2 separate regions of the Homo sapiens genome follow, and region 2 is reported to be linked to region 1. The links are microRNA targets in miRTarBase. Many come from high-throughput screens and were not tested one by one. Region 1 holds a microRNA gene; the other region holds the end of a gene's coding sequence. Distances are from middle to middle.

Region 1 (4,387 bases):
CAGACACGCAGAGGATCATGAGTCCAGGCACGCATTCAAATACACACAGTTTTAAAAAATTTTTTTTAAAAGAAAAGAAAAACTCAAATACAGTTTAGCTGGGCTTGGTGGCTCACGCCTGTAATTGCAACACTTTGCGGGGCTGAGGCGGGAGGATTGCTTGAGCCCAGGAGTTCCAGACCAGCCTGGGCAATGTAGTGCGGCTCCATCTCTACTAAAAGTAAAAAAAGTAACCAGGCATACTGGTGCACACCTGTAGTCCCAGCTACTCAAGAGGTTGAGGCGGGAGGATCGCTTGAGCCCAGGGGTTCGAGGCTGCAGTGAGCTGAGATGGCGCCACTGCGCTTCCAGCCTGGGGGACAGGGCAAGACTCTGTCTCTAAAAAAAAAAAAATACAGTCTATCCAACACACCCATGGACGGACAGCTGAGCACTCACCTCCCAGCCCTTGCTCTCCGGCACCGTATGGCTGATAGCATCCCCCACCCCCCAGAGCAGTGCTGGTGGAAAGCATTCCTGAGGGCCTGGACTTCCCCAATGCCTCCACGGGGAACCCTTCCACCAGCCAGGCCTGGCTGGGCCTGCTCGCCGGTGCGCACAGCAGCCTGGACATCGCCTCCTTCTACTGGACCCTCACCAACAATGACACCCACACGCAGGAGCCCTCTGCCCAGCAGGTACCTGCAACCTTGGCCCTGGCCGGCAGCAGGGGCAGGGGGTGGGAGGCAGCGGGGGCTGTGGGGAATGAAGGGGTTTCTCCTGCAGCCCAGGAGACAGAGGGGTGTGTCTCACACAGCAGATTGGACACAGGTGTTTGCAAGCAGCTGTCGTCACGTGGCTCTCTGGACTGGGGGCGTTTGTCACGGTCATCTGTAGGCCTCTGAATGTCAGGGTGCGGGTTTGGTTACAAGGGATTATTAGGCTGGCAGATGTCACTCACCCACAAGCTGTCCTGACCCAGTCACACAAAGAAAGGGAAGAGTGGAGTAATTAACAGCCCAGCCTCAAGACAGGGGCCACCTCCCAGCTGTGTGACCCCAGGCAGGCCACCTCTTCTCTCCAGCTTCAGTTTCTTTATCTGTAAAATGGGGCCAATTTATAGCACCTGCTTCTTAGGGCTCTTGTGAGGATGAAATGGACTAATCCATGCAAATTTTAGCACAGTGCCTGGCACAGAGTCAGCCTTTGTGAGTCTGCTGTTACTATATATCCTGGTATGGTCTGCAGACAAACTTAAAGAACATAAAAGCTTCACAATTTGAAAAGGAACAGCCTACATGGATAACCTCTTCCATTGAAAAACCATGAATTTGTTCCTTCTGTTTTCTTCTCCCTACTGGCTCTTTTTGTGAGAAGTTGTCTTAAAACTTAACTAAAATTACAAGGCTCCTTAAGAACTGCCTGAAAAAAATAATTATGGCCAAGTGTGGTGATTCACACCTGTAATCCCAGCACTTTGGGAGGCCTAGACAGGAGGATCACTGGAGCCCAAGAGTTCGAGACTAGCCTGAGCAACATAGTGAGACCCGCCCCCCACCTCCCCTCAACCATCTCTACTAAAAATAAAAAAAAATTAGGAGGGTGTTGTGGTGCATGCCTGCAGTCTCAGATACTCAGGAGATGGAAGGAGGAGGATGGCTTGAGCCCAGGAGTTGGAGGCTGCAGCGAGCCGTGATCATGCCACTACACTCCAGCCCAGGCAACATAGCAAGACCCTGTCTCAAAAAAAAGAAAAAGAAAAAGTAATAATAATAATTACAAAAGTTAAAAACCAAAGCCAGGCATAGTGGTACACACCTGTGGTCCCAGCTACTTGGGAGGCTGAAGCAGGAGAATGACTTGAGCCTAGGAATTGGAGGCTGCAGTGAGCTGTGATCATGCCACTGCACTCTAGCCTGGGCAACATAGTGAAACCCTGTCTCTAAAAAAAAATTTTTTTATGTTAAAAAACCGTATGAGCTCCCACTCCCTGCTGGCTCCCTCTAAAGTGGTTTAAAACACAGATGTAGGAGGCAGATGGTCTGGGTTCAAATCCTGCTCCATAGCTGGATGTGGTGGTGCACTCCTGAGGTACTAGCTACTTGGGAGACTGAGGCAGGCGGAATGCTTGAGCCCAGGGATTGAAGATCAGCCTGGGCAACATAGCAAGTCCCTGTCTCAACAAACAAACAAACAAAAAAACAAAAACAAAATCCCACTCCACTACTGAGTTCTCTGTGGGGATTATAATTAAACCAGCCTCACTGGGTTGTGAGAATTCAGTGAGTTCGCTGAGAAGAGGCCTAGAACAGGGCCTGGCACACAGTAGGTTCCAGGGCATCCTTGACTGTTGCTGTTGTTGGCATCATCGTGCCTCACCCGATACCTTCCAGGACCCCCTGCCTGAGCCTCGCCCCCACCATACTGGGAGATGCCTGGAGGCCCTGCCTTGATGCTGAATTTTGAGAAAGTCCCTGGAGGGGCAGGAGGGGTCAGGAGGACTTGGAGGGGGATCACAGGGCAACTAATTATTAAAGCAGATAAAGATGTTTAAAACAGATAAGGAAGTCTTTTAATATTTTAATCTGTAAAGTCTTTAATCTATGCAGGCTAATGTAAAGTCTGTTTACTCCTAATCATGTCTCAAAATAACTCCACCGGGCATTACCTTGTGGGGTTGGAGAGCTGGCTGGTCCAGCCCCTCAGAAGCTCTCCCCTCCCCGCAGGGTGAGGAGGTCCTCCGGCAGCTGCAGACCCTGGCACCAAAGGGCGTGAACGTCCGCATCGCTGTGAGCAAGCCCAGCGGGCCCCAGCCACAGGCGGACCTGCAGGCTCTGCTGCAGAGCGGTGAGCTGGGGCCCAACTGGGGCTGGTCTGGGCCTGGGGGTACCCAGCCTGGCCCCTGATCTCTGCCCCTGCTGGTCACAGGTGCCCAGGTCCGCATGGTGGACATGCAGAAGCTGACCCATGGCGTCCTGCATACCAAGTTCTGGGTGGTGGACCAGACCCACTTCTACCTGGGCAGTGCCAACATGGACTGGCGTTCACTGACCCAGGTCTGTCTGCACCCTGTCTACCTTCCTTCCAGGCCACTCCCTGCCCCACAGGGCACCCAGCCTCCGACTGCATCCCTCACTCAATCCAGAGTCCTCTCCACCCATTCTCTGTAATGGCTTCCTTCTTGCCTCCTACCAGGCCTCCCTAATCCAAGCCATGCACGGTGGCTCACACCTATAATCTCAACACTTTGGGAGGCCAAGGTGGGAGGATTGCTTGAGCCCAGGAGTTGGAGACCAGCCTGGGCAACATAGTGAGACCCCATCTCTACCAAAAAAAAAAAAATAAGCCCGGTGTGGTGGCACACACCTCTGGTCCCAGCTCCTTGGGAGACTGAGGTGGGAGGATCACTTGAGCCCAGGAGTTTGAGGCTACAGTGGGTTGTATTCATGCCACTGCACTCCAGCCTGAGTGACAGAGTGAGACCCTGTTACAAAACAAAGAATCCCTAAATGGAGCCCTCTACTGCCCTCCCCCTGCTCCTGGAAGCCTGGGGCTCCCTCTGATCCCCAATTGCAGCTACCAGCCCCTCTACATGGCATTCAAGAACCTGCGCACCCATTTGATCTTCATTGTACATCTCTGTGTGCCTGCTCTAAGTCCAGCCCTATCCTGGGTAATGTTGGGAACATGGTGGTAACAGATGGACCTCATGGAACTCCCAGCCCAATGCAGACTGGCCTGTCACCTGACAGTGACAGCCCAGAGGGGTCAGGGCCGGGGTTGGGGAGACACAGGCAGAGGGTCAGGGCCAGGATGGAGGGAACAGAGGGCTGTGGAAGCTCAGAGACCCCAACCTGGGGCATTGGAGGGTTTCCCAAAGGAGGTATAACTAATCTGATCCCTGAAGGATAGGGAGGAATTAGCGCAAGATGGAACAGGAAACAGCTTGGGCAATGAGGTGAAGATAAGACAGGACAATAACTCATGAATTCATTTCCTCAACAGATAGTTCCCCTAACCTTTAATCTCAGCAATTATGCAGGGAGATGCTGTAGATATAGCTGTGACTGAGACATCCCTAGTGCCTGTCCTCCCAGCCCAATGGGAAGACCAGTTTGTCACCAGAAAGAATGAGGAGGGAATCCCAAGGGACTGTGAGAGCCCAGAGGAATGCCTGGTGCAGGCTGGGTAGTCATGGGAGGCTTCCTGAAGGAGGCAACATGTCAGCCTAGACCTAAGAATGAGTAGAAGCTAGCTCAGTGGAGGGTAGAAGCAACAGCAGATTGCAAACGTTCAGGAAACCTGGAGCTTTGGAATAACTGATTTTCATCAAAACTTAAGTTGATAATCATTCTAGGACTTTAGCTATTGGAGCTGGGGTGGAGGGGGTACTGTGGGACAGGGGGAA
Region 2 (4,387 bases), 31 Mb from region 1:
TTTTACAAGTATTAGCATAATATTAAAAAGATACTTTTTATAAAGATAATTTTAGACATGGGCAGTTACAAAAACAGTAGGGTTTTCATGTACCCTTCACCCAAACTTCCCTAATATTAGCGTCTTAAATAAACAATAGAACAGAATTCTCAACCAGTAGCGATTTTGTTTCCCAAGGGACATTTGGCAACATCTTGATACATTTTTGGTTGTTACAACACCTTCAGACATTTTGGAACAGGAGATACTACTGGCTACTGGCATTTAGTATTAGATGCCAAGGATGCTGCTAACATCCTTCAAGGCACAGCCCCCACCAAAAGAATTATCCAATCCAAGGGCTGAGTGTGGTGGCTCACACCTGTAATCCAGGGCTTTGGGAGCCCAAGGCAGGAGGATCGCTTGAGCCCAGAGTTGGGGACCAGCCTGGGCAACATGGCAAGACCCTATCTCTACAAAAATAATTCACTGGGTGTGGTGGCACGTGCCTGTAATCCCAGCTACTTGGGAGGCTGAGGTGGGAGGATCTCTTGAGTCTAGGAGTTAAGAGGCTGCAATTAGCCATAATCTTGCCACAGCACTCTAGCCTGGGTGACAGAGGGAGACTCTGTCTCAAAAAATAAATAAATAAATAAAAATAAAAGGCTGGGTGCGGTGGCTCACGCCTGTAATCCCACCACTTTGGGAGGCCAAGGTGGGTGGATCAAGAGGTCAGGAGTTCAAGACCAGCCTGGCCAAGATGGTGAAAACCCATCTCTACTAAAAATACGAAAATTAGGTGTGGTGGCGGGCGCATGTAATCCCAGCTACTCGGGAGGCTGAGGCGGAGAATTGCTTGAACCCCTGGAGTGGAGCTTTCAGTGAGCCAAGATCGTGCCACTGCACTCCAGCCTGTCTCAAAAAAAAAAAAAAAAAAAAAAAATCCAACCCAAAAAAGTCAACAATGCCAAAGCTTAGAAACCCTGCTATAATATAATTATCAACACTAAGAAACCAATATCAATATAATACTATTAACTAAACCACAAATTCCCCCCAATCCTGTTTTCCCACTAGTGTTTTTATGTTCCAGGATGGGTGCTCACTGTTCCTGGAGTGTCACTGTTTCTGGTCCCTCTAAGTGGATAGAGCAAGGAAATATACATATGTATACACACATCTATATGTATCAATATATCTGTTAAACGAAAACCATGAATTCAGACTGATGCCTCCAAATCCAGTCCTACAAGGTTCATTTTAAGCATTCCCATCTCCTGTTTTATTTGTAACTTCCTTCTCCACAGTGAGACACCCAGCTCTCATTATCTACAAGTTTACTTATTTGTTCAACCCTGTTTGTGTGTATTACATGGGCCCATGTGCCCACACCCACACACACAAAAGTAGTTTCAAAATTGCTAAATCATGGCTGGCCCAACGGCTCACACCTATAATCCCAGCACCTTGGGAGGCTGAGGCGGGCGGATCACTTGAGCTCAGGTGTTTGAGACCAGCCTGGCCAACATGGTGAAACCTTGTCTCTGCTGGAAATACAAAAAATTAGCCAGGTGTGGTGGCTCGTGCCTGTAGTCCCAGCTACTTGGGAGGCTGAGGCAGGAGAATCGCTTGAACCCGGGAGGCAGAGGTTGCAGTGAGCCGAGATTGCACCATTGCACTCTAGCCTGGGCAAAAAGAGCAAAACTCCATCTCAAAAAATAATAATAAAAAATAATAATTAAAAAAAAGCACAGAAAAGCAAACTATGGAATGTCATATAAATATTACGGGACATATAATTATCCCCGTATGATAAAAACTCTAGGTTATTCCAGAAAGTTTCTAGAGTCACTCAAATGTATTAATGCCCACCACTGGTGGGAGGAGTGGTATAAGAAATAAGAAATTCAGGGCCGGGCGCAGTGGCTGACACCTGTAATCCCAGCAATTTGGGAAGCTGAGGTGAACGGATCATGAAGTCAGGAAATCAAGACCATCATGGGTAACATGGTGAAACCCTGTCTCTACTAAAAAAAATTAGCTGGGTGTGGTGGCATGCACCTGTAATTCCAGCTACTCAGGAGGCTGAGGCAAAAAAATCACATGAACCCAGGAGGCGGGGTTTACAGTGAGCTGAGATCATGCCATTGCACTCCAGCCTGGGCAACAAGTGTGAAACTCCATCTCAAAAAAAAAATTTTTTTAATTTAAAAAATAAAACAGGACAGGAGCAAGGTTGACACAAAGAACTGTGGCCAGGGGAACAGAGGGACAGTTGGTCTCCTGTCTACTCACACCTAGAGGAAGAATACAGCAAATAACATTATGTGCCAGGCATCCTGCTATTCTAATTGCGTGGTCTCATTGAGATGTGGGTGCCACTGTAGTGCTCATTTTTAGAGGATGAAACTGAGGGTCGCAGAGGCTGAAATCCCACTGCTAAGGATCAATCAAAATTCAAATCTAGTCGGTCTGACTCTTGAGGCTGGGATCATGTAGCCACACTTATAGTGCCACACTGCCTCACTGTCTACTATCACGTTTTGTCTTGAAAAGAAGTGCTAGGGCCAGGCATGATGGCTTGTGCCTATAATCTCAGTACTTTGGGAGGCCAAGGCTGGAGGATCACCTGAGGTCAGGAGTTCAAGACTATTTTGGGCAACATAGGGGAGACCCTGTCTGTACAAAAAATTTCAAAATGCCAGACGCGGTGGCTCACGCCTGTAATCCCAGCACTTTGGGAGGCCGAGGAGGGTGGACCACTTGAGGTCAGCAGTTTGAGACCAGCCTGGCCAACATGGTGAAACCCCATCTCTACTAAAAATACAAAAATTAACTGGTGTCATGGGGCACGCCTGTAGTCCCAGTCTCCTGCCTCAGGTGAGGCAGGAGAATTGCTTGAACCCAGGAGGCAGAGGTTGCAGTGAGCTGAGATCGTGCCACTGCACTCCAGCCTGGGTGACAGAGCGAGACTCTGTCTCAAATAAAATAAATAATAATAATAATTTTAAAATTAGCTGGCGTGGTGGTACACACTGCCCAGCTACTTGGGAGGCTGATGCAGGAGGACTGTGTTGAGTCCAGTTCAGGGCTGCAGTGGGCTATGAACATACCACTGCATTCCAGCCTGGGTGACAGAGCAAGATCCTGTCTCAAAAAAAGAAAAAAAAAAAATGCCAGGAACTGTGGATGTTTAAACATGCTTTAAACTCATTTATACCTCCTCACAATATGCCGATTGAAAGCAGACATGAAGTAAACGCAATTATTTCCAGTGGATAAGGAAGTAAAGGCTTACAGAGGTTAAAAAATTTTGCCTAGTGTCACTCAGCTGCTTGGTGGCAGAGCTGACATTCCACACATGGTCTGTGTGATTTCAGAATCTGAATTCCTAACAATTACATCTACTGTCATTAGCCGGAGGTTCTTTGGTTTATTAGGGTGACAATAATCCCAGAGTCTCTTGACCTTCAGACACCCACAGCAAACCCCAGAGCTCTCTCTGGGCTCCCACACAGACTCCCAGCCTGCTGGTCTACTCTGCCCTCATGGATCCAGTTGATCAGAGCTCTTATTTTAGCAGCTGCATGCTGATGGTGCAGTGATGACCAAACAGCGACTGATCCACCCATCACTAGACAGCTGTCATACAGAGACAACAACAAAGCAACATCTAAGTCTTTATTAAGGTGAGTTTTTACAAACAAGCATCTATCCCAGTGTGGGGGATGAGGATGGGAGAGGAAAGCGGGGCAGGAAGATGAGGATTCTCATCTATTGATAATAAAGCTCCAGGTTCATCCCATCGTGGATTTCATCTGAAGGAAAGGTGTTAAGGAATCCTGACTCTGACTTCCGTCCCCACCCCTCTCATCCATTCACAGCCGGGTCAGGTGGCCTGAGGTCTCAGCCCAGGGCTAAGGAAGCCCATTTTGGACCAGGCCATTTTTATTTGGAGAGAACCAAAACTTTACAAAAGAATTTCTGGCTGGGTGCAGTGGCTCACACCTGTAATCCCAGCACTTTGAGAGGACGAAGCAGGTGGCTCACTTGACGTCAGGAGTTTGAGACCAGCCTGGCCAACACGATGAAACCCTGTCTCTACTAAAAATACAAAAAGTTAGCTGGGTGTGGTGGTGGGCACCTGTAATCCCAGCTACTTGGAAGGCTGAGACAGGAAAATCGCTTAAACCTGGGAGGTAGAGGCTGCAGTGAGCCAAGATTGTACCACTGCACTCCAGCCTGGGCAACAAGAGCAAAACTCCATCTCAAAAAAAAAAAAAAAAGTTTCTGTTCCTTCTAGGCCAGGCACAGTGGCTCACGGCTATAATCCCAGCACTTTGGGAGGCCGAGGCGGGAGGATCACTTGAGGCCAGGAGTTTGAGACTAGCCTGGCATACATGGTGGA

The links. Region 1 holds the annotated microRNA hsa-miR-6796-5p (UUGUGGGGUUGGAGAGCUGGCUG, at 2,649-2,671, shown strand). A microRNA usually pairs through its seed, bases 2 to 8, with sites in the 3' UTR of a target mRNA and lowers its output. Matches are read on the target gene's strand: a 7mer-m8 pairs with bases 2 to 8, a 7mer-A1 pairs with bases 2 to 7 and ends in A, and an 8mer does both.
Region 2: the mRNA of UBL5 is a reported target of hsa-miR-6796-5p. Seed matches in the 3' UTR shown: 7mer-m8 at 3,700-3,706.

Annotation. Positions count from the first base shown.
Region 1 is chr19:40,367,203-40,371,589 of GRCh38, forward strand. It overlaps MIR6796 (microRNA 6796), which reads left to right and starts at 2,644; the gene lies at 2,644-2,705. PLD3 (phospholipase D family member 3) reads left to right here. Exons shown (of 13, transcript NM_012268.4): 6 at 494-677; 7 at 2,706-2,826; 8 at 2,908-3,035. RefSeq lists a silencer at 744-909.
Region 2 is chr19:9,829,375-9,833,761 of GRCh38, reverse strand. It overlaps UBL5 (ubiquitin like 5), which reads right to left. Exons shown (of 5, transcript NM_001048241.3): 5 at 3,647-3,797. The coding sequence ends at 3,754. Among named protein-coding and RNA genes, the nearest start is that of PIN1-DT, 3.4 kb to the left of the region's middle.